Linked DNA regions of Homo sapiens: all the other regions are linked to region 3. Evidence: fine-mapped expression QTL. A gene starts in region 3. Each other region holds a variant in brackets. All regions are shown on one strand. Distances are between the middles of the regions. Region 1 has its middle 30 kb from the start of B3GNT7. Region 2 overlaps ARMC9 (armadillo repeat containing 9). Region 3 holds the start of B3GNT7 (UDP-GlcNAc:betaGal beta-1,3-N-acetylglucosaminyltransferase 7).

Evidence for each region. PIP is the estimated chance that this variant, and not a neighbour inherited with it, causes the effect.
Region 1: its variant is fine-mapped to the expression of B3GNT7 in NK cells (Schmiedel 2018, PIP 0.93).
Region 2: its variant is fine-mapped to the expression of B3GNT7 in whole blood (INTERVAL, PIP above 0.99).

What each region holds. Positions count from the first base shown.
Region 1 is chr2:231,421,355-231,429,529 of GRCh38, reverse strand. No RefSeq gene overlaps it. Among named protein-coding and RNA genes, the nearest start is that of B3GNT7, 30 kb to the right of the region's middle. The variant C/ACTCC (reference allele first, on the strand shown) is at 3,956.
Region 2 is chr2:231,370,622-231,378,788 of GRCh38, reverse strand. ARMC9 (armadillo repeat containing 9) reads right to left here. Exons shown (of 25, transcript NM_001352754.2): 25 at 1,941-7,276. The coding sequence ends at 7,254. Among named protein-coding and RNA genes, the nearest start is that of MIR4777, 12 kb to the right of the region's middle. RefSeq lists enhancers at 2,037-2,600, 7,156-7,803, 7,804-8,167. The variant TG/G (reference allele first, on the strand shown) is at 4,893.
Region 3 is chr2:231,391,545-231,399,719 of GRCh38, reverse strand. It overlaps B3GNT7 (UDP-GlcNAc:betaGal beta-1,3-N-acetylglucosaminyltransferase 7), which reads right to left and starts at 4,010. Exons shown (of 2, transcript NM_145236.3): 1 at 3,906-4,010; 2 at 1-1,989. The coding sequence starts at 3,916. The coding sequence ends at 795. RefSeq lists enhancers at 65-610, 611-1,158, 2,399-2,468, 1,411-2,610, 4,879-4,928 and 4 more and a silencer at 3,859-4,328.

The sequences.
Region 1 (8,175 bases), 30 kb before region 3:
GGGAAGTTTTCGTTTTTAAAGCAGCTCTTAGAGCCAGGCCGGCAACCTTTGATATGCAAATGAAGGCCATTAGAAACTGGGTCCACCCAAACATGGCGATTCCTGCGAACTTCTTGCCCTTGCCCCACATGTTCCTGGCAACATGGCCACCCCTACATATCCCCATGTGTGTAGAACATCATGGCACCCTGCGTTTGCATATTAAAAGGCTAGGGTGGGAGGGCCAGCTTTTTCACGGGCTGCATGAATGACATGCCTGGTCAAACCAATCCCCTGAGCCCTATGCAAATCAAACACTGCTTCCTCCAGCCTCTACATATACCTGGCTGGTATCCACCACACTTGGGGTTCCCTCTTTGGACTTTGGAGCCCCCCTCCTTCTGTCTCTGTATGGGGGAGCTTCTTTCTGTCTTCTCCCTTTCTTCTTGCCTACTAAACTCTCCGCTCCTTAAAACTACTCCATATGTGTCCATGTCATTCTTTTTTTTTTTTTTTTTTGAGATGGAGTCTCACTCTGTCGCTCAGGCTGGAGTGCAGTGGCACGATCTCGACTCACTGCAACCTCTGCCTCCCTGGCTCAAGCGATTCTCCTGCCTCAGCCTCCCGAGTAGCTGGGATTATAGGCATGCGCCACCACACCCAGCTAATTTTTGTATTTTTAGTAGAGACGGAGTTTCACCATCTTGGCCAGGCTGGTCTGGAACTCCTGACCTCGTGATCCACCTGCCTCAAAGTGCTGGGATTACAGGCGTGGGCCACCATGCCCGGCTGAGCCTGCCTTCTTGTTTCAGCTCTCACACTGTAAACATGTGTCCTTTTGGTGGTCTATTTAGTGCCACTTTTTTTTTTTTTTTTGAGACAGAGTCTCGCTCTGTCGCCCAGAGCTAGAGTGCAATGGCGCGATCTCGGCTCACTGCAACCTCTGCCTCCCAGGTTCAAGCAATTCTCCTGCCTCAGCCTCCCGAGTAGCTGAGACTACAGGTGCGTGTCACCACACTCGGCTAATTTTTGTATTTTTAGTAGAGATGGGGTTTCACCATGTTGGCCAGGCTGGTCTTGAACTCCTAACCTTGTGATCTGCCTGCCTCAGCCTCCCAAAGTGCAGGGATTACAGGCGTGAGCCACCACGCCCAGCCAGTGCCACTTTTTTTGTATTTTGTGCTTTTTGTTGCTGGTTTTCTTGCTTCATGTGGCCCCCAAGTGAACTGCTGATGAGCTTTCTGGTGCTCCTAAGAGCAAGAAGGATGTGATGTGCTATAGGGAGAAAATCTGTGCGTTGGAGAAGCTTCATTCAGGTGTGAGTTATGGTGCCGTGAGTCCAATATTAATGAATCAGGCTGGGCGTGGTGGCTCATGTCTGTAATTCTGGCACTTTAGGAGGCCGAGGCAGGAGGATCACCTGAGGTCAGGAGTTAGACCAGCCTGGCCAACATGGTGAAACCCCATCTCTACTAAAAACTACAAAAAATTAGCTGGGCATGGTGGCACATGCCTGTAATCCCAGCTATTCAGCAGGCTGAGGCAGGAGAATGGCTTGAACCTGGGAGGCGGAGGTTGCAGTGAGCCAAGATCATGTCATTGTACTCCAACCTGGGCAACAAGAGTAAAACTGCATCTAAAAAAAAAAAATTAATGAATCAACTGTATATTAACTTCAGTGTCTTTAAACAGAAACAAACATAAAAAAAGGTTATGCGTTGGTCGACTGAGGAAAATATTGTGACTAGGCCGGGCATGGTGGCTCAAGCCTGTAATTCCAGCACTTTGGGAGGCCGAGGTGAGCGGATCACTTGAGGCCAGGAGTTTGAGACCAGCCTGGTCAACATGGTGAAACCCCATCTCTACTAAAAATAAAAAAAATTAGCCAGGCGTGGTGGCACACACCTGTAATCACAGCTACTTGGGAGGCTGAGGCACGAGAATCACTTGAATCCAGGCAGTGGAGGTTGCAGTTTGCTGAGAATGCACCACACACCACTGCACTCCAGCCTGGGCAATAGAGTGAGACTCGGTCCAAAAAAAAAAAAAGAAAGAAAGAAAATACTGTGACCAGACCCTCACAGGTACCTAAGGAGGAACCTAATTTCTCCCAGGAGCAAAGCTTCAACATTCACTAATCCAGTGTTTGTGGTGATTTTATAGAACATAACCACCACGAATCAGGAGCATGGGCTGTACCTCCTGCTGGTTGTGTTTCTCTGGTTGCGATCTGACTGATATAGTGACAAAGTCACAGAACTGCTAATACTATTGTGGTTTTTTGCCACTACCTTAACAAATTTTGAAGAAAAGTTAAGGGTTGGTGAAAACAAAGATGTCTATTTATTCCCATCCATGCATATGAGTCCCCTGAATGCTCTCTGTGGACCCTGTGGGCATTCGTGGACCCCAGGTTAAGACCACCTGCAGGTTAACAGAGGATAATGCAAAGGCCCACACCAATCATGGTGAAGGGTGGAGGTAGCAATGTTCCCACAGGCTCTGAGGAAGCAGTGAAGCTGGAAGGCCCCACCGGGGAACTGGAGGCTGAGGGCTCAGCAGGCCTGTGGGCTCTGCTCCCCAGCTGAAGACACGGTACCCCTAGTTCTTCCTTAAGCTGTGGTTGCCCCAAGCTAGATCCATCCGAAAAAACCATGGCTGCCTACGGGTGTTGAGGAAGCGTTGTTTGCAAGGGCTGGGGTTTGCCCCAGTGGCTCTGAGGCCTCTCCCTCTCCTTGCACTAAACTCAGACAATTCTGTTCTTCTCCTATTATTCTACCTGTGATTTTAAGTGCTCCTCGTATCTGCACAAACTTACCCCCATCTCTTTTTATTGAAAAAGCAAACAGATCCCCTGATTCTTTGGGTCTGGGATGATACTTTGGCTGACTATCTGTGCCCTCCACCCACTACACCCTCCCAGAAAATGAAATTAATCTACTTAGGTTCATCACAAAGGTGGGCTGGTCGACCCAGTGGCAGACCGTCCCGCCCATGTCACCATACCAAGCGCCCTTCTGCTTCAGGTCCTGGGAGGTCAGGACTTCCTGGTGTCATCCTCAGACGGCGGGACAAGGCTGGGGCTGGATTCTTCCTGTCTGGGTTCACCTCCAATTGCTGGTGCTTCCTTAAGCACAGCACTATTGCCCCCATGTTTATGAACGGGAAAGGATACTAATTAGAACCAGCCAAAGGAAGAGACACAGGGTAGAGTCCAGGGAGGGTCCTGATGAGGAGCTGGCAGCCACCGGTGTGGCATCACCTCCTTCTTGCTGTGATGTGTGACAATTCGCAGAGTACCGCCAACGGGTGTGGCATCACCTCCTCCTTGCTGTGATGTATGACAATTCGCAGAGTACCGCCAACCACGGAAGCTTCCCCGGGCTTTGATGTCAGAATTTGTGTTGCAGTTTCCCTCTGTGGGCAGGGTGATGGAATCATTGCCTGTGAGGTTGAACTGGGTCTCTAGCTTGTTTCTTCGCCCCGGGGGTTGCTCTGACAGCTCTCGCCCTCAGGGGCCCATCATGAGTCACCTCATTAGGGTAACGGTAAACCATCAGGTGTGGTCTTCCAGGAGCCAGGACAAAGGCACAAAGGCCAGATCTCTCTGGGGAGAGGGAGCGTGTGAATTGCTTAGTACACAGCTCCTGACTTTAGCCTCCTGCCCCTCAGGCTGGTGCTTCCCCAGCTCTGACTACACATTCTGCTTTGTGAGTGATTTTACGAGTCTCACCTGGCCTGGAACTGGCAATGGGGAAATTGCTGAGGCAGGTGGCTGGCTCCAGGGCCTGGCTTGAAGATGGGCAGGAAGGCACTTACACTGCCCTCTCATGAGCCCCCCGGTACCCCCTTACAGCCCCAGACCCCAGTGATGTTCAGGCTTTTGGAGCAAGCCCTGTTGCTTTCTGCAACCTCTGTGGGTGGACTCGGACTCCTGACTGGTCACTTGCGGAAGAGAAGACCAGCGGCTCCTCTC[C/ACTCC]CTCTCGCAGGAGACTGAAGGCTGCCACCTCTGAGACCTCCTACCCTTTGGCTCCCCTTCTGGGAACCATGTGAAAGTGGCTGTCATGAGCCACATCCTGTCCAGCTGAAGTCCTGCTTGATGTTGGCAGAGGATGTGGTCGTTCAGAGCTGGGAGGACAGACCAGACACCAAGCAAGACCAAGAACTCTCCACTATTTCTGACTCTGGATGAGCGGGGTGCAGGGTCTTGAGGAGTAACTGGGGAACGGGACTGCAGAGACTACAATTCCCTCAGGGAATGTGGCTGTGGGATGAGAGTAGGGACACAGCTGAAGAGGTTCATGGGGTTGAAGGAGTTTCTTGTTTTTGTTTGTTTTCAACACGTAAAAGTCTTGAGCCCATTTAAAAGGCCATGGAGCTAGGCGCGGTGGCTCAGGCCTGCAATCCCAGCACTTTGGGGGGCTGAGGTGGGCGGGTCACATAAGGTCAGGAGTTCGAGGCCAGCATGGTGAAACCCTGTCTCTACTAAAAATACAAAAATTAGCTGGGCGTGTTGGCAGGTGCCTGTAATCTCAGCTACTTGGGAGGCTGAGGTGTGAGAATCGCTTGAACCTGGGAGGCAAAGGTTGCAGTGAGCCGAGATGGCACCACTGCACTCCAGCCTGGGCAACAGAATGAGACCCCGTCTCAAAAAAAAAAAAAAAAAAGAAAAGAAAAGAAAAGAAAAGGCTATGGAGAAGGATTAGTGGAGCAATGGATGTTGACCACAGAAGAGAGACAGTGGTCCTAAGCGCTTGGGAAGGGTGGGCTCTGAGACTCAGGTGGAGGCAAGCAGGGGATGGGTCTTTTGTTTTTAAACTGGAGGTGCTCTTCCCACGAGTCCTTCCACGTGCTCTTTGAATTAAAAGGCAAGGTCATCTGATGAAAAGAGGGGAGATGTCAGAGTCAGAGGTTTGAGAAGTGCAGAGGTCTCAAATGTGCCCAGGAAACATGGAATTAGACCCAAGTCCACACGATAATTCAGTACGTAATAAATCTGCCACTTCCACTGGTGTTGGCGTAACTGGAATACCATCTGCCTAGAGGAAAAATTATATTAATATCTTTTTTTTTTGAGACAGGGTCTCACTCTGTCACCCAGGCTGGAGTGCAGTGGTGTGATCATGGCTCACTGCTCCCAGGTTCAGGTGATACTCCTGTCAGTCTCCTGAGTAGCTAGGACCACAGGCACACACCACCACTCCTGGCTAATATTTTTAGACTATTATTTGTAGAAATGGGGTGTCACTATGTTGCTCAGGCTGATCTTGTGCTCCTGGAATCAAGTGATCATCCTGCCTTGGCCTCCAAAAGTGCTGAGATTACAGGCATGAGCCACCACGCCCAGCAATACCTCATGTCTTATATTAAAATACATTTCAGGTGGATCAAATATGTTAATGTAAAAAGTGAAATATGACAGTACTAGAAGAAAATATGGAAAATTTATTTTATAACTTAAAGTTGGAAAGAGCTTTTTAAATTTAATTTTTATTTATTTATTTTTTCCAAGACAGAGTCTTGCTCTGTTGCCCAGAGCTGGAGTGCAATGGCGCGATCTCGGCTCACTGCAACCTCCGCCCCCCAGGATCAAGCAATTCTCCTGCCTCAGCCTCCCTAGTAGCTGGGATTACAGGCATGCGCCACCAGGCCCGGCTGATTTTTGTATTTTTAGTAGAGACGGGGTTTCATCATGCTGGCCAGGCTGGTCTCAAACTCCTGACCTCGTGACCCACCCGCCTCGGCCTCCCAAATTGCTGGGATTACGGGTGTGAGCCACCACGTCCAGTCTTGTTTTTAATTTTTAAATTTTCAGTGCTTTTTGGGTAGGAGAGGACTTTCTAAGAATAACGACATAGTACCTAGAAGCCATTAAGGAAAAGATGGAAAATTTACATTAAAATATCACTGTATCACAGAAAAATTATGAACAAAGTCAAAAGATAGATGACAAATGGAAAAATATTTTCAGTGCATATCAGATAAATGTCTTTAATGAACCCCTTCAACAAATAAGTAAAAGTCAATCCCATTTTAGTAGGTGTCGCAATGGAAAAAAAGACAAAGACAAAGACAAATAAGCCAATAGAAAAATAGGCAAAGGATATGAACCAACCGCGAAGCAGGCTCACCGTGCGCGGCTTACCAACTTGTCGGCATCTGGTGAGACGGAACACACTCACATGTACCCAGTTACACGATGAGGATTTATTACAGATTGGCAGCAAGGGGCAACAGAGGCCTAGGATTCATTCAGAGCCAGTTCCCCAGGCTCAGGCCAGCTGCCCAGGGCTGATGGAATCTTGACTTCATGCGTCCCACCTGCACCATGGCTGAAGAACCCTGAAAAGCAGCCTGCCCTGAGCTTTATGCTCTGTGAGTGGCTGAGCTACAGTGTTGAAGGACACCCTGTTTCTTTTCTTTTTTTTTTTTTTGAGACAGAGTCTCGCTCTTGTTGCCCAGGCTGGAGTACAGTGGTGCGATCTTGGCTCACCGCAACCTCCACCTCCCGGGTTTAAGCAATTCTTCTGCCTCAGCCTCCCGAGTAGCTGGGATTACAGGTGCCTGCCACCATGCCTGGCTAATTTTTTGTATTTTTGGTAGAGACGGGGTTTCACCATGTTGGCCAGGCTAGTCTTGAACTCCTGACCTCAGGTGATCTGCCTGCCTTGGCCTCCCAAAGTGCTGGGATTACAGGCATGAGCCACCCTGTTTCTAAGGCGGAACTGGAACAGAGCCTGAGCAGTTCTGGCCAGCTCCCCCTTATCTCAAGATGTTGCATTTCTAGCACATTCTACAGTTAATTTTCAGAACTACAAGCAAGAAAGATGGGAGAACCGGGCTGGTTTAAGGTCACCTAGAAAATTGTCCTGTACAAATCTTTCTCAGGAAAGGAAATATGAATGATTCAAACACATGAAAAGATGTTAATGTCACTCAGAGTAGGAGAAATGCAAATTAAAACAACACTATGTGCATTTTCTTACCTGTTAGATTGGTGATGATCACCAGGTTTGCTGACACATTTCATGTACCTGCTGTTTGGGACAATTGCCAGGGAGGGTGAGTTGGGAATAGCTAGTTATCTGTTATGGACTGAGTTGCATCCCCTCAAAATTCACACGCTGAAGTCCTAACCTCCAGTACCTCAGAATGTGACTGTATTTGGAGACAGGGTCTTTAAAGAGGGAATTAAGTTAAAATGAGATTGTTAGGGTGGGGCCCTAATCCAATATGACAGATGTCTTTATAAGAAGAGGAAATTTGGACACATACACCCATAGAGTGAAACTAACTCTGCCAACATCTTAATCTCAGACTTCAGCCTCAGACTGTGAGGAAATAAATTTTCCGTTGTTTAAGCCACCCAGTCTGTGGTTCTCTGTTATGGCAGCCCTAGCAAACTAATACACCAGCAACCTTGAAACTGACCTGAAAATTTGACTTCTAGTAACTTATACTACAGATAGACTGGCATGTGTTCCTGGCATGTGCAGGATATGCGAGGGTATTGTTTGTAGCAGTCAGGGTTCAATCAAGAAAACAGAAGCCACTCTAGGTATTTTGAGCAGAAAGAGAAGCATTGGAAGGGCTGGGAGAGGAAAGGCCAGGAAAGTTCTAGAAGTTAGGAGATGGCAGGGAAGTCATCACCAGTGATCCTCGGTGCTGGCAGGGCCAAAGCACATGATGCCCAGGGGGACACCTGGAGCTGCCGGAAGCTGTCACCAAGGATCTCAGGCTGGTCTCGAACTCCTGACCTCAAGTGATCCGCCAGCCTTGGCCTCCCAAAGTGCTGGGATTACAGGTGTGAGCCACTGTGTCTGGCTGGATCTCAGCTGCTTATAGCACTGCAGTGGGGGTCATGCAGGGTGATGCCCAGAAGCCGAGGAAAGGAGTCTGCCATGAGTTTTGCTGCCTAACCATAGTAGCTGCTGGAGACCAATGGCTTCTGCTTCCTTCATGGGCAGAATTCAGCCTAGGACATACTGGAAAGGGGCTCTGGAAATGCAGGGAGATGTAGAAGGGGATGGGAGTGATGTTACATTAACAAGGACTGATCTAGCACCGTCCATCCACAGAGGCTGGTTAAATACACCATGGTTTGTTCAGACGGAACACCAAGCAGCTTCAAATGGAATGCAGAAACTCCGCATTTTCTGCCCGGTGACCCTCAGCAGTGTGGGTGGCCAAATGGGTGGC
Region 2 (8,167 bases), 21 kb after region 3:
CCAGGGTCCCTGGTCCTGCCCCTCAGGGCCTATAAGCCACTGGGACCCTCTGCCTGGCTTCTCCCTTGAAGACGGTGCTGCCTGAGTTGAGGCCTGACTTGGCATAACTTGGAAACTTGCTGGTCAGAGGGTGGCACCCTGTATGCCCCTCCCTTCCAGCCTGGTCAGTGATCCCTACTCCAGGCTGTTTGAGACCCAGGCCACACTATCATGTATCCAGTGAACTCTTCCCCCGCCGGGAACTGGTGACTCATCACTGAAGACTTGTGACAAAGAGCAGCTCCACACCTGTGCACACTTGGGGCAGGCGTGTTTCCAGAGGCCCAGAGGGACAGCGAGAGCGTGAGCAGCAACACTGTGCCAAGCAGGAAGGTGTCCAAGTGACACCCAGGACAACTGGAAGAAGCCCTCGGTGATCACAGAAATGGGGAGAGGCTCTGAGCCAGATGCTGGAAGGTGAGCTGACACAAGTGCTTTGGGCCAGTGCGATCCCTGAGGACCTGTAGAAAGAGATTTGGGCAGAGTCAGCCGCTACCTCTCCATCGTGCATGCCACACCCTTGGCTTTGCTATTTCAGGGATGCACACTGCCTTGCTTCCTCTAACTCTCCCTGACATAGTTCCTGATCCACCCAACATCCTGCCTCTGAGGCTGCACCGTCTTGCACGGCTTCTGCCAGTGGAGTGCTGGTAAACATTTAATAACCGGCTCTTGGGGGTGGGGGCTAAAGCTCTGGTTTGTGGTGCTTGCCAATTTCTGTGGTGTAAATACCCCCACCATGGCCAGTTTCAAGCTACCAAAATGATGTCACTGAACACAGAGCTGGGAAGAGATGTCCAGCAGCCTTTGTTAATTCTGTCATATTTCCACCATACAGATGCAACAGATGTGAATAACCTCCAGGACTGAGGACAGTGGATGCAGGAAAATCCTTAGGAAAGGATGTTTTGAGTATTTATTCCCTTTGTTCTTAATAGAATTTATTTTACTGTAAGTTTATATAACTTAAGTTTTGGTAATGGCTATGTTTAAAAGCAGCTCATAGAATTCCCCCAAACTGGGCCGGGCGCGGTGGCTCATGCCTGTAATCCCAGCACTTTGGAAGGCCAAGGTGGGCGGATTATCTGAGGTCAGGAGTTCGAGACCAGCCTGACGAACATGGTGAAACCTCGTCTCTCCTAAAAATCCAAAAATTAGCCAGGCATGGTGGCACGTGCCTGTAATCCCAGCTACTTGGGAGCCTGAGGCAGGAGAACTGCTTGAACCCGGGAGGCGGAGCTTGCAGTGAGCCGAGATCGCACCATTGCACTCCAGCCTGGGCAACAGAGCGAGACTCTGTCCTAAAAAAAAAAAAAAAAAGAATTCCCCCCAAACTTAGGAATCAGCTCTGTGAGCTGTCCCAAACTGGCCACACACCACTGCCTCCTGCCCAGGGGCCAGAGGAGAGCCTGGTGGACTCCTTGCTCCCCAGCACCCCTCAAGATCACAACTTTGAGGCCTTTGCTCCAGCCTCCCTTCTTAGAGCTCATGCCACCACTTCCCTGTCTTCTCTGGGTCTCCCCTCTGACCTCAATGCCTTTGGCATCCAGCTCACCGCCTTGACGGGCACTGGTGCAGGCTGACCTCTGGCCAGTGCTCTAAGGAAACTGCTCTCAAGCTGGCCTTAGCCTGTTATCTTCTTCCCCACCTCCTCTATAGCCCGACCATGGTGACCGCCCTCCATCCCCTGCTTTCCTCCCTGGGTTCCAGAGCTTGCATCCTTAGTCCTCCCCCTGCATTCCAAGTCCTCCTCCCTGCATCCCTAGTCCTCCTCCTCCTCCTTCCTTGAAACTCCTGCACCTGCCTATCGGGGAACCTGCCCCAGTAATCACATAGGTTCTTTTCTATTTTTCCTAAGCGTCGGCCGGCTTGAGAAATAAAGGGACAGAGTACAAAAGAGAGAAATTGTAAAGCTGGGTGTCCGGGGGAGACATCACACGTTGGTAGGATCCGTGATGCCCCACAAGCCACAAAAACCAGCAAGTTTTTATTAGGGATTTTCAAAAGGGGAGGGAGTGTGCGAATAGGTGTGGGTGACAGACATCAAGTACTTAACAGGGTAATAGAATATCACAAGGCAAGTGGAGGCAGGGCGAGATCACAGGACCACAGGACCAAGGCAAAATTAAAATTGCTAATGAAGTTTTGGGCACCATTGTCATTGATAACATCTTATCAGGAGACAGGGTTTGAGAGCAACCGGTCTGACCAAAATTTATTAGGCGGGAATTTCCTCCTCCTAATAAGCCTGGGAGCGCTATGGGAGACTGGAGTTTATTTCATCTCTGCAGCCTCGACCATAAGAGACGACCACGCCCCCGGGGGAGGGGGGCCAGTTCAGAGACCCACCCCCAGGTGTGCATTCTCTTTCTCAGGGGATGTTCCATGCTGAGAAAAAGAATTCAGCGATATTTCTCCCATTTGCTTTTGAAAGAAGAGAAATATGGCTCTGTTCCGCCCGACTCACCAGTGGTCAGAGTTTAAGGTTATCTCTCTTATTCCCTGAACAATTGCTGTTACCCTGTTCTTTTTTCAAGGTGCTCAGATTTCATATTGCGCAAACACACATGCTGTACAATTTGTGCAGTTAATGCAATTATTACAGGGTCCTGAGGCAACATACATCCCCCTCAGCTGACAGGATTAAGAGATTAAAGTAAAGACAGGCATAGGAAATCACAAGGGTATTGACTGGGGAAGTGATAAGTGTCCATGAAATATTCACAACTTATGTTTAGAGACTGTAGTAAAGACAGGCATAAGAAATTACAAAAGTATTAATTTGGGGGAACTAATAAATGTCCATGAAATCATCACAATCCACGTTCTTCTGTCATGGCTTCAGCCAGTCCCTCCGTTTGGGGTCCCTGACTTCCCACAACACCTGCTGTCTTCTTTCTCACCCCCGGGTTCTGTCCCCAGTTTCCTATTTCTCTAGTCCCCCTTCTGAGATCCCATCCACCCCCAGGCTTTAGTAGACACCTTAAGATGACGACTCTGGATAGGGCTCTGTAGCCCTGACTTTTTGCTAATTTTGCAACCATTTCCTAGAAACCTGCCTGATGTTTCAACCTGGGGCTGGTGCTCCGGCCTGGACCATGCCATCCGAAAAGGCCAGAAATTCTCCCTAGAAGATGGATGGCAACTTGAAAGCCAGTGGGACCATGTCTCCACATCTGACACACTGCAGCCCCAAAGAATATATTTGTTCAATTGAATCTAAATGGAGAGGGTATACCACAATGGAAAAACAGCCCTAAAAGATTTGGTCCTGCAAAGCTCTGAACAGCATCTATGTGGTAGCTTGCAGCAGTATTGCCTCTGGTTCATTCGGGGTCCCTGTATCCACATCCTTTCACACAGACTTGGGCCTTGGCCATGTGGTCTGCTTTGGACAATGGGAGAATAGTGAACGTGATATGAGACTTGGGCTTGATTTCTCTAACTGCCATGGGAGCCCCGAGGCCACCATGTGAACAAGCCTAAGCCAGAGGAGAACCAAGGGCTCAGCCAACAGCCAACTACCAGACATGAGCGAAGCCCCTGACTGCCCTCTGACCATAAGACATAGTTGAGTTCAGCCAAGCCCAGCAGAAGAATCGCCTGTCCGTGCCCAGCCCCCATCACTGATCCAAATCATTATAAAGCTAATACATTTGTTGGTTTAAGCCACTAAGTTTCAGAGGTAGTTTGTTAATATGCAAAAGCTAACCTAATCACTTCTTAGAACAGCACACCCCAAATAGTATCTGGAGAGATAAAGCTAGGCAAACAGGCACACCACCAGCCCCAGGCTGTGCTATCAGGCACTGTGGGAGGGACAGGAGGATCCCCCAGATTCTAGGCCAGGAGAGAGGGGTGAGGTATTCACCTTGCATACAAAATTTAAAGGGCTACCCCAAAACTCAGTAATGAAGACACATGATGTAATATTTTAATGTAATATTTAAAAAAAATCAAATTGGTATCTCTGGTCCACGTCCCAGCTGCCTATTTTGTAAATACAGTTTTATTAAAACTGGGGCTGGGATTAGGGTTAGACAAGCCAGGTGGGGTCATCCAAGTACAGGGCCAGACTTGTTTTTATTAAAAAGTTTGATATTTTATCATGGATTTCTTTTCTTTACCTTTTCTTTCTTTTCTTTTTTTTTCATGAACCTTATTTGTTCAACTATTTTATTTTTATTTTTATTTTATTATTTTTTTTTTAGCTCTTTTGATTTGGGCCAAATCTTTCCTCACCTATTGACTAATCTCTGGCATCTCACTGGATCTCAAACCTCCACCTGCCTATTAAAGTCCCCACCACAGGTCCTAATTTAAGCTCTTGCCAGACAGTTCCACCTTGCTGTGAATGCAGAAATGAGATCAAGTCCCACTCAGAAGAAACCAGAAGATGTGAGGTAACCAGAGGGGCGGCTCAGCCTCCAGGGCAGAGGAGCCATAATCTACCTGGGGCCTTACCATTTTCCAGAAGGTCCAAAGATCCCTCTCTGTGGCTTCCTTGGTAGTTTTCAAGGGCAAACCTTAGGCGCCATCTGCTTGGATCTCCATCTGGAGATCTGGCCTTTAAACAGGTTTACTTGTGTTTTAGATTCTTTCCCCTTAGACTGGGGTCATACCCATCCTCAGCAAGCTCATTGGAGCTGGTAGATAGTTGGAATATTTGTGAATAAGTTGTTGGTATTTTACAAAGTATATTTCTAGCTGTCAGCCTTGGAATGCAGAGGCGTGAGCCCAGGAGTGTACTCTCCCAGGGCGTGGCGCAGAGGCCTGGGTGATATTTTCAGCACTTTCCTGGAAGAACCACACATACCCCACCTGGTAATCTCAATGTATTTTTTTTTTTTTTT[TG/G]ACGGAGTCTCTGTCGCCCAGGCTGGAGTGCAGGGGCGTGATCTTGGCTCACTGCATCTTCCATCTCCCGGTTCAAGCTATTCTTGTGCCTCAGCCTCCTTGAGTAGCTGAGATTACAGGCACCCACCACCACATCCAGCTAATTTTTTGTATTTTAGTAGAGACGGGGTTTCGCCATGTTGGCCAGGCTGGTCTCGAACTCCTGGAGGCCTCAAGTGATCCATCCGCCTCGGCCTCCCAAAGCACTGGGATTACAGGTGTGAGCCACTGTGCCCGGCCTAATCTCAGTGTATTTTGACCCTAAGTTGGATACTCCCCACTTCTCTAAAAGACTATCTTTTCTTCTCCTCAAACCATCAGACATCTACAGATCAGACTTTAGCTCTTTGGTAGGCTTGAGGGAAAAGTAGTGGTTGACTTCAGACGAGGGAGACACTGACCTGACCCCGATGATTCTCCCACCCCCGCTGGACTTCTGCTGCTCCCACACCAAGGGCGGGAAAGGCTGTGCCAGCCAGTGGCATCTGAGGAATCCGTAGGGGAGTGGACTTCTTGTGGGGAGCAAGAGAGATTTTTCCATTCCACTCCTTTGCTGTTTGTCTGCAACCACTCTACACCTTTTCAAAGTCTCACCACGGAGGAGTTGCATTTTGCGGACCCTCTGCTTTTCCTCTGTCTGCACCACTGACACCAGGGGCGAGCTTTGTGTTTGCTCCCAATGCCTCCGGGTCAAGTGAGGAGTTCAGAGAGGGCCTGGTGGCTGACAGGTCAGGACGGCAGCCTTCTTCCCTGAGCACAGAGTGGACACATTTCCAGAGAACCAAGAGGTGGCCACCAGGCCAGTCACATGACAGCATCTAATGTGCCCAGCCTGGAGCCGCTGCCAAGAATTCACGAGATGAACCAGGGTCCCGGCCCTGGATGAGCTTCTGGTCATCTCATGGGTAACCTGGCCTCCTGTTTACCTCCTCTGCCTGCGCTCCTGAGGAGTCAGGGGGCCATGGAAAAATCCAGCGCTTAGCCTTTATTTACGACCATTGGGACCAGAGATGTCCCCATTGAAGGGTCTGTGGGCAGATCAGGTGCCTGGGGGAGGGCACGCGACTTTTCTCTGCTTTCCATTTCCCTTCATACACTCATACACACACACACACACACACACACACACACACACACACACACACACACACACACACCACTAAATACTGATGGGTTTTATTTGATTTTAGAGCTTGGGTAACATCCAGGACACCTGTGACTTGCTGGTCCTGAAGGCAAACATCCTTCCTCTGTCCTAAGACTGGATTCTGATGACAGCCCTGGTGAGGGGCGTGCGCAGGCCTCCCCCGCGGGATGGGTCACTTTGCTGGTAGAGCTGTTTATGTTTATGGTCCCAGTGCAGGGAGGGAGGCAGAGGGTGCTCCCTGGTCACACTGGTGGCCTTTTTAAGGCCTTCAAAAAACGTGTGCAGAAGAGCAGAGCTTTGAAGAGGCTGGAACACACCATATTCTCAGAATTTTTTTTTTGGGGACGGAGTCTCGCTCTGTCACCCAGGCTAGAGTGCAGTGGCACGATCTCGGCTCACTGCAAGCTCCGCCTCCCGGGTTCACGCCATTCTCCTGCCTCAGCCTCCAGAGTAGCTGGGACTACAAGCGCCCGCCACCACGCCCGGCTAATTTTTTTGTATTTTTTTAGTAGAGACGGGGTTTCACCACGTTAGCCAGGATGGTCTCGATCTCCTGACCTCGTGATCTGCCCGCCTCAGCCTTCCAAAGTCCTGGAATTACAGGCGTGAGCCACCGCACCTGGCCTTCTTTCTCAGATTTTAACACAGGAAGAAAACACCAACTTTGCTGCTGAGACGCAGGCTTGAGAATAAAATGAGCTTCACCCTGAGTTCCTTCTGGGTCCTGGTAGTCAGCCCAAGTGAGGAGGGCTGGCTTCAGCAGCCTTGGAAAAGCCCTGCTCCAGGCTGGCCCTACACTGTCGCCCTGTTGGGGCCTGGAGGGCCAGGGCTGCAAATCCAGCACCTGCTGTTTCTGGGGCCAGAAGATCTCCTGCGGGCAAAAGCCACCCCTCTCCTCTGTGTGTGAAGGGTGAGCAGGAAATTCCCCTCTCCAGGAGGGCAATGCCAGGCTCTCCCCAGCCCTCCTTGGTGGCTCTGCCCTGGGAGAAAGTGACCCGGCTGGCGGGGCTGCGATGGCCTTGCTCTGGTGCTGCCTGGAGAGCCGGCCTCCCCTCAGCTCCCAGAGTCTTGTGGACAACTGTCCCTTCACATCCATCACCGGCAGCTGCTGCCAGCTGAGAGCGGGAAGCTGGCTGGTCCTCCGGCAACGTGATGGGGACACCCGGGGACATCCTTACTTCCTGTGAGACTGGCTGCCTGGAGAGAAAAGCCAGAGCAAGATGCCAGTGCTGTGTGGTCTCCGCACAGAATCCCCTCTGTCCCACTCAGTCCCTCTTTCAGCCGGCTCAGAAGCGAGGGAACCTTCCCTCTCCCAGGTCACCTGTTCTGTGGCCTGGGCTCGACTGGCGGGCCGGCTCTTTCCTCACAGGAAGCAGGCTGCTTGGTGCGGGTCACTCAGTCAGCTTTGCTGGCAACAGCTCACGTGTTTGTTGAGCCCACAGGACACACAACGCCCATGGCTGGCTGAGCTGTCCACACCGTGGCCACGCTATGCTGCTAGATGTGGGGCCAGGCCAGCCACCAGCTGCTGGTGTCACTGTTGCTATGACTGGGGATCCCTGCCCCAGTGGCACCTTCCTCCTGGCCGAGCCTCCCCTGGATTTGCTGCACCTCCTCTGCGCCTGACCTGGGCTGCGACTGGCTGGGCTGGGGTTTTGGGTGTGTTTCCCAGTGGGAAGTGGGAGGGGTCCCAACCTGGCTCCCCAGCCATGGCCATTACCCCCACTTCCAACCCAGCGTGTCCCCAGCTGACCAGAGCGCCCAGGGCCTGGCCAGGAAGGTAGTAGGGTGGGGCGGGCTGGGGGCGGCCAAAGAAATGCGCATATCCTAAGCGGGACTCCTTTCGTCCTGCCTGGCCTTTTGTTCTGTCCTTTTGTTTTCCCTGTGTTTTGGTAAAGCCCTCTAGAAAGGTTCAGCTCAGTTGGGGCGTGGAGGTGGAGGGGCTATCAATTGGCAGAGGCTGGAAGGGGACAGAGAAAGACAAAGAAGTGGTCCTTACAGTGAGCCTCAGGTGAGAGGGTGAGAGAGAGGCCCCAGGGAGAGAGTGGGGGCCCTTGGGCCCATCCCATCTTCAGGCCCTTCTGGCGG
Region 3 (8,175 bases):
AGCCAGGCCTGGGGGTGTGGGGGCTGCGGGAGAGACTTGCCTGGGGTGGGGGTCAGCAGCTCTGGGACTTCGGGGGGCCAGGAGCGCTGCTCTTCTGCCCTGTGTCGGGGTGGGGTAGGGCTGCAGCCCCAGGGAGATTCTGAGGGGCGCTGAGGTAGTCAGAGCGGTCGCCCTTCCAGACCTTACAGGACACAGCCAGGAGTGGAGGCCCTGTGGCAGAGGCGGCCCGTCTCCAGGCAGGCCTGGGGCTGCGGAGAGCCGGCTGGGCCCTCTCTCCCAGGAGACCAGGGTGTGGACTGGGGGGTGCCTGTGAGCCCGCACAGGGTTGAGTTTCTCCTGCCAGGGCCGCCCGGCCTCTGGGGAGACTGAGGCATTTCACAGAAGACTCTTCCCTGTGAAGACGAGGGGCGGCCACAGACCCATCAGGCCAGGCCTAGCCCAGGTACCTGAGCACAGCGTTCCTCCAGAGGTCACCAGGACCTCCCACCACATCTGAGGGGGCCAGCAACGGACCCAGGTCAGGAGGGCTGCCAGGGCCTGGCGCCTCGCTCCTCAGAGAGGGCCTCCAGACTGGGCAGCTCCAACCGTTCCTGGGCCTCAGTTTCCTAGAATTATCCACACAGGGAGGTCCCTTTCTGGCTACCTGCACCCCACCACACCCAGTGGCACGTAGGCCTCAACCCTCCACCTCCCCTTGGGGACCAAAGGCTAGGCCTGGGCACTGTGGCTCCAGCCCCAATACCATGGGGGCTCAGGAGCAAGTGCCCTGGCCTGTCCTAGTAGCCCGGCTGGGGTCAGAGCACCTGGAGCTTGCGGGAGCAGGTGAGATTGCTGTGCACCAGCCCCCACATGGCGAGCAGCTCAGGGGGCAGCAGCTTGTGCACCACGAGCATGGCGCGGAAAAAGCACGGCTCCTTGTTCATGCGGCTGTTGCGGTTCCGGGAGATGCCGAAAGTCTTGAAGCCCTCGTGGGCCGTGGGCTGCACGCCCAGCACCTCCAGGCACATGCCCAGAAAGACGTCGTCGATCGGGTAGAGCTCCAGGGTGTCGCAGGCATGGTGCAGGCGCCGGGCCAGGCTGCCGGCCATGAGGAAGCCACCGCCGCCTGCATACGGCGGATAGCTGGCCTTGCCGTACAGGGCCCCCGGGATGTAGTATTTGTTGTCTTTCCTGCGAATGGGCCGAGCGTGCTGCAGGACATCGCCCACGAACAGGTTTTCCTGTGGCTGCCGGTCAGCCAGAAATTCTAGCAGGTTGGTGGGGTTGACGAAGACGTCATCGTCGCCTTTGAAAATGAAGGGGACGTGGGGGCAGTAGATGTCCAGCCACTTGAGGAAGTGGATCTCCTTGAGGGTCAGGTTGAAGAAGGTGTCGAGAAAGCCCCACTGCAGGATGTCGCCGTAGAGGCGGTCTTCGTAGGCCAGCAGCTGCTGGTAGTGCGTGCGCTCCTCCTGCTTGGAGGCCGTGCCCAGCAGGAAGAGGGTGCGCACGGCGCCTCGGCCCCCACCCGCGGACTGCCGCTCGCGGCCCCAGGTCTGGCGGATGGCCTCGCGGCGGTCGTGCTGCGTGATGACCGACTTGACAACCACCAGCAGGTAGACATCGCCCCTGCACTTCTCCGGGTGGTTCAGCAGCATGGGGAAGTAGCGGCAGTGGCGGTAGAAGAGAAACTGCCGGAACTGCGGCTCCAGGACCTGGAACCAGGGCTGGTGGGTCAAGTTGATATTGGCTGAGCAGTTAGTGGTGGTCACGTCCCAGGCCTGGGGCCCCTGAGAGGCCATGGGCGTGGGCGCAGCCACATCTTTCGGGTTCTTCCAGAAGTTGTTGGGGTTCACCAGCTGTCCATTTGGCTTCTGGGCCTTCTGTGGCTCCAGGGTGGGTGGCGGAGGCTCCTGCAGAAACTGACCAGGGGTGAGACTGCGTTGGAACACCGTCACGGCCACGAGCAGGGCCAGGGCCAGGCACAGACTCCGGTAGACGGTTTTCTTCCTGTGGGGGAGAGCGGACAGTACAGAGGAGAGAGAAAAGATGAGCCCAGGGCTCTCCTGGCGCCCCCCTTGGGAGGCTGGGTGGTCCCAGACGGGCAAGTGGACCTGGGCACAGGCTCAGTCCCGGAGTCCCTAAGCTGTCAGGGTAGGGTCCCGCTTCCTCTCCCACCCTGCCCTTTCTTTCTCCCACCCTGCCCTCTCCTCAAGGAGCACTGTGGAATCAGGCCCTGACGCTTACAAGCTGAATGAGTGGTTTACAACCACTCTGAGCCACGATTTCTTCTTCCCCCAAATGGGGCTAAAACACAGGATTGGAGTGCTATATAAAGTACCAGGCAGCGGGTGCACAGTTAGGGGAATGCTGTCACCTTAACAGGAGGGCCTCAGGTGGAAACCTCTGCCCTGTTCCCCACGCCTGGAACCCCAATGCCTTTCATTTCCCTGCGGTGTACCTACCCACAGCAGTAGGTATCGGTATCATTAGGTGACTCAGAGCCAGAGTCATTGAGAGGGCACCCTCTGATCCTCTGTGCCGCCCGGGAGCTCCATCACATGTGGGGCACATTGGAGAGTGGCTCGAGCTTGGGACCTGAGGAAGACTGGCCCTCCTCCCCCTTCTCCAGTCTGTCTCACCCAACAAAGAGCAGCCCTCATGGTTGATGGAGGCCCAAGGATGCAGTGAGCACCTCTAGCATGGCACTGCCCCTCACCCCTACCTTAACATCCCCAGCTCATAACACCCCATTAGAAGACATGAGGCTACAGCTCTACTCCCTGGGAGGGGGCACATTTGCAGCTCCAGCCCTTGAGGGACCCTTCTTGCCCAGAGACCCCCCCACCCCAACCCCGGTCCACACCCATTTCGGAAGCAGAAATTAGAGCTCTCTGCCAGGAGTGCTGGTCGTCCCAAGCCCTGGGGCCTGAGCCCCTGTCCTGAAGGACCTCCTCTCTTCATCTCACCCTCCGGGGGCTGCCAGGACACCTGCCCCACCCTCCCCAGTGGAGACCTGGGGGCTGAGAGCTCTGGGGACAGCAGAGTGGCCTTCCAGGGCCAGCCTAGCAGAGAGATGGCGCTGACCTCCAAGGGGGAGGAGCAGGGTGCCAGGAGAGACAGGCAGCCCGTGGAGACGCCTGGGTTGCCCTGAGGGCTGGTCCGGTTGCAGGTCCAGGCCCCAGGGTGAATGCAGGCTGAGCCCCATAGAGCGACATTTTCCCCATAGGGTCCCCAGGTTGCTGGGGCATGTGGTTGGAGGAAGACAGGGGCACCTTAGGTGCAGGCTGGGGGGTGTGACCCAAGGTCCAGCTCTCCGGGGAGGAAACGGAGGGCTCCGGATCCGGCCCTGCCAGCCCTAGGGGTTCCAGGGAAGCCGCCCACCGAGGCCGGGACGGGGGAGGTCGGGGGGTGCACCGGGAAGGCGGCGAGGCCCTGGGCTGCGGGCGCTCCACCTGCCGGGTCCGCTCCATTCGTAGGGAAAGCCCGGGAGGGGCGGAGAGGGGCCGGGCGGGCGGCGGTCCGAGGTCCCGCGGAAGGAAGCCCCGAGAGGAGGAGAGTGGCCCGGACGCAGGGGGCCCTCAGGGGTCTGGAAGGGAGAGGGGACCCAGCTGCCGGCAAGACCTGGGGTCCCAGCCGCCAGGGTCCTGGAGCGGTGTCCAGGGCCGCGGGGCCGGGGAGCTGAGCGCGGCGCCCCGAGACCCCTCGACGTCCCCCACGGGTCCGGGGCCGCGTACCGCGAACATCTCCCGCCGCCGCCGCCGCGCCCGCCCGCCCATCCGCCCCCGGGAAACTGAGGCCGGCGCGGCGCGCGCGGGGGCATCTCCTATCCCGGGAGTCCCGGCGCCCGTCTGTGGCCACGGAGGAGGGGGAGCCCCGGGCCCACGCCCCCGCCCAGGCCCCCGACGGCCCCCAGCCCCACTCACCACAGCGACATGGCGGCCCGGGCCGGAGCGGCGGAGGGGCGAGCGGCTCGCAGCTCTGGGCGCCACGGCTCGGGCCGGCGGGACGGCGGGCGGGTGGGGACGGAGACCGGGCCGCGCCCCCGCCGCGACTTTCCTCTTCCCGGCCGCGGGAGGAGGGGCCGGCAGGGGCGGTGGCCCAGGTGCCTTAACCCCTTCGGCGCCCAGGGCCCGCCCCGCCGCCGCCTGGCGGGGACCACCCCATTTCTCCGAGACGGCCCCTAGGCTCCCCAAGCGCGCCTAGTAGACAGTGCATGGCCGAGGCGGGGCTTCGGAACCCACGGGGGTCACCTCCAATCCCGGGGACGCCTGTCCCTGGCGGAGCCTCCCGGGGCGGGGGGAGGGCGGTCGCCGGTCCCTCCTGTACTTGTGCGAAACCTGAACACCCGGTCCCCTCCAAGACCCTGGGGCACCCCAAGGCCCAGCCATTTCCCTCTGGCCCCATTCGGACTTGTCTTTGGGGCCAGAGGCAGACAGGGTGTCCTTTTCTCCCTCTGCTACCTTCTGCCCCTGCACCTTTCCCCTGACCAGACGGACCCCTTGCCCAGCTGTTGGGCTACCTAGGGCCAGGAGCAAAGCCAGCCACTAGGGAAAGAGGCCGTATGAGACTGGGCTCCATGTCAGGACTCGCCCAGGCCTGTGGCTCTGGAAGCTTTTTTTGTGCCCCCACCATGTCCCTCTCTTCACCTCTGGGGTTCCTCCCACCTCTGAGGGCTCCCCACCACCAAGGGAAGGCCTGTTGGCCCAGCCCTATCTCCTTTCTTTTTTCACTTATCACTCAAAACCCTTTTTGTCCTCAAGCCTTTATTAGTCTGCTTGTGCACATCAGGCCTAGCGGCTCTGGGGAGTGGGCTGACAGAGAACACGGAGAGGGCTTGGTCCAGCCAGGTGACTTCCAGAATCCTCCAGCAGGGAGAGCCATCGCTGGTCCTGTTGTTGCTCAGGTTGTTCTGGTCTTGTTCCGGGTTGAGGTTTCGGTGCTTAGCATCCAGCAGGACCTCCAAAAGGCCCACAGAATTGAAACGGAAGCACGTTGTGGTCCAATCATAACAGCTAACGTCCACTGAGCAGCTACAATATGCCAAACCTGGTTCTCGGCCCATGCATGACTGGCTCACTTAATCCTAGAGACATACGCTATTATTCCCACCTTACAGGGGAGGAAACGGGGGTGCAGAGGGGAACTCCCAGCCAGCTCAGAGAACAGCGAGCCCAGAGTTAGTAAGCACATCCAGGAGGCCTGCATGGCCTGAAGGCTGGCTCTGAACCCTTCCTGCCTGGTCTGAAGGCTGGCTCTGAGCCCTTCCTCAACCTTTTTTCCTTTCCCAGGGACAGCAGTGACATGGAGCTACTTTCCTGCCCAGCACACAGGGAGGCTAGGAGTCCTCAGCTGGATCTTAAGCCCTCGAGGCCAGGGTGAGGAGCCCCTTCTGCCCTATCCTTAAGGTTCAAGGGCCCTTTGGAGGGGGAGGAGAAACTTAAGGTACCATAGAATGTTCTGGAATGTTGTAAGTGCCAATTAGGGAATGTGAAGGGCCTTTCAGGCAGAATTTCAGAGGAGTATCTTGGGGCTGATGTCCTTTGTAATGGCCCTCCAAAAGTTCCAGAGCAGGGGAGGGGCTGACCTGCAGCCCAAAGCCCCTGTTGGCCTGGCTGCCTGCCACTGAGGGCCACCCGCAGATTCTGCAGCTCCACGGCTCCCTTCATCCCAGTGTAGCCTTGGCCACCGGTTCCCGCAGGGCACCAAGCATTTTGCTCCACTGCCCAGCCTTCCGAGTTCCCCACTTCACCCTGCAAGTGTGGCCCTGGCTTCCCTGGCTCCACACAGGTGCCCTGCTGAGAGCTGCCTCCCTGGCTTCAGCACTGACCTCTCACCCGGTGCTGTGGGGTCTCCTCCTCCTGCTGAGGGGTGGACACAGCCGTCCCTGGGAAGGGGGTTTTGAGCCCATGTTTGGGGATGGCAGGCATGGGCGTTGGGTCAGAGTCTTGCACTTCCTGGTTGTCACTGGGGGCAGGTGGCTTTTCCCCTTGAGACCTCAATTTCCTGCCAGCTCAGGGCCTTGTGAGATGACGCCAATGAAGCACAGACATAGGCATCCCCTATGTAAAGAACTTGGTGGCAGGCCGGCTACTGTTAGTGTTATCATTGATGTCCAGCTACTCCACAAAGCCCCAGAAGCACAAGGGCCAGAGGAGGTGGGAGCAGAGGGAGCTGCCCAAGGTCAGCGGAGTGTTTGCCAGTGGAATCTGGTCAGTTGAGACAGGCAGTTTGTCATCATGGAATCATTTGATCTGTGCCTAGTTTGAATTCAGAGAGGGGAAATGAATGACAATTAAATGCGAGTCCCTGATGGTGGGGTGGGGGTGGGGAGTGTGGAGCCGGGCCAGGCTCGGGTCAGCCTCCCCTGTTACTCCAATGTGCTCCCCTGTGGGGCAGCTGGGCCAGTCCCTATGGCAAGCACAGTGGTCCCCCCACCGCCAATCTGGCCAGTTCCACCTGCCCCAGCCAGAGGGCAGAGCCCCAGCAGATTCCTGTGGATTTAAGCGAGGCCCTGAGGAAGGCAGGCCTGTCTGCGATGGGATCTGCCTACCTGCTGTCCCCAACCCTGGCTGAAGGCAGAGCCCAGAGGTAGAGGGAAGTTCCAGAGTGGCAGATACCAGGAGAAGAGGGTGGGTGACGGATGAGCTGGCTGCATAGGCTGCAGGAGTCCCAAGCCAAGGTGGAGGTGGGTTCTGTGTCCTTGTCACAAGGCCACTCTGTGCACCTCAGGTTGCTCCCTTGGAGGGGGAAGCTCGTGAGCCAGGACGTTGGAGGACCCCAAGAAATGCCCCCTTCCCCAGTACATCTTTTGGCCCCTCAGCCCATCCCTACCTCCACCTCCACTTTCTTTTATATCCCACCCCTTCAACCTTCCAGAATAGGTTGGAATCCGACCCTGCTGGTAACCCCAGCACAGGCCTTTGCCCAGAGGCGAGGGCTGCAGAGACCCAAGGGTGGGAGTATCTGACTGGCCAGAAAACACACTGGGTCAGTGGCTTGACTGGACAAGGTGGGGGCCAACTTGGGTCAGAGGGACCCCCAAAGCAGAAGGTGAGGAGTCTTGCGTGCCTTGCAGAGAGGTGGCCATCGTGGGGCGAGAGCGCGGAGCCCAGCAGGGGCCACGGGCAGGCAGCTATGCTGGCTGTAATCGCCTCAGTGCTGCTGTGATTTTGTGAGCGTGTGAGTTAAACTTAGTTGGTGTTTTTGAAAGACCCTGAGCAGCAGTCTACACTCCAGGGGCAGCCACAGCCAGCACTTCAAATGTGGTTGTCTACTGTCACAGCAGAGGGTCTGTACATTAACACGGGAGGGTCGGAAATCATTGTTCTGTAGTAAAAAGAGTGTTGCTGAAGATGTGTGCCTGGGAAGAGGCACCGCAAGTCCCCTCTGCCTGTGCCTGGGCAAGTCCAGCCACCAGCAGGGCAGTGCCCCGGGTCTAGAACTTTCTCTGAGTGGTTCTGGGCCCCCGCAGGTGGTGCTCTGACTGGAGGTTAGCTAGTCATGGTGAGCATGTCCTTGAATTCACCCTGACAAAAGCTGTTGTGACAGGACAGAGTGAGACTTCCCTGAGCTTGTGGGCAGGGGCAGGGTGTCTGTTTCTGTGCTTCGTGCTAACAGATGTTTCCAGTAGGGTAGCCGTTGGGTCTGAGAGTTGATTTCATTATAATATGCCACCCGATGGGGAAGGGTGGGGTGAGACCTACGCTTTCTCAACTACCTCTGGTCCTTGAAGGCCACCAATATCCTCTGCAGAGAACCTGACCCATCCTGCAGGGCAGTGCAGGAGGGACCTCAAGGCTGCTGAGTCAAGGGGCTCACTACCCAGACAAGCACTGGGGGAGTGCCCCCAGGTAAACTGATGTCTCCCAGAAATGGCTCCTGTGTGAAGCCAAGGCAGTGTGTGGATCTAGGGCAGGAAGGGAAGTAGGGATGGAAAATGAAAAGGGAGAACACATTTCCCTGGGGGACAGGTCTTCCTTTGAAGGGGTGGGAGGAGGAGAAGGCCAGGATGGAGCAAGCAGCGAGGTAGGAGGAGATGACCGTGTCTTCAAGGTGTGGGTGGTCTGGAGTCTGGGAACTCCCCTTGCCCAAGGGAAGACTGGGCCAGAAAGAAGCCCAGATCACAAGGCGTTGAACTGAAACAGGAAGAAGTTTAAAGAGGCTGCATGTGGCCGGGCATGGTGGCTCAGGCCT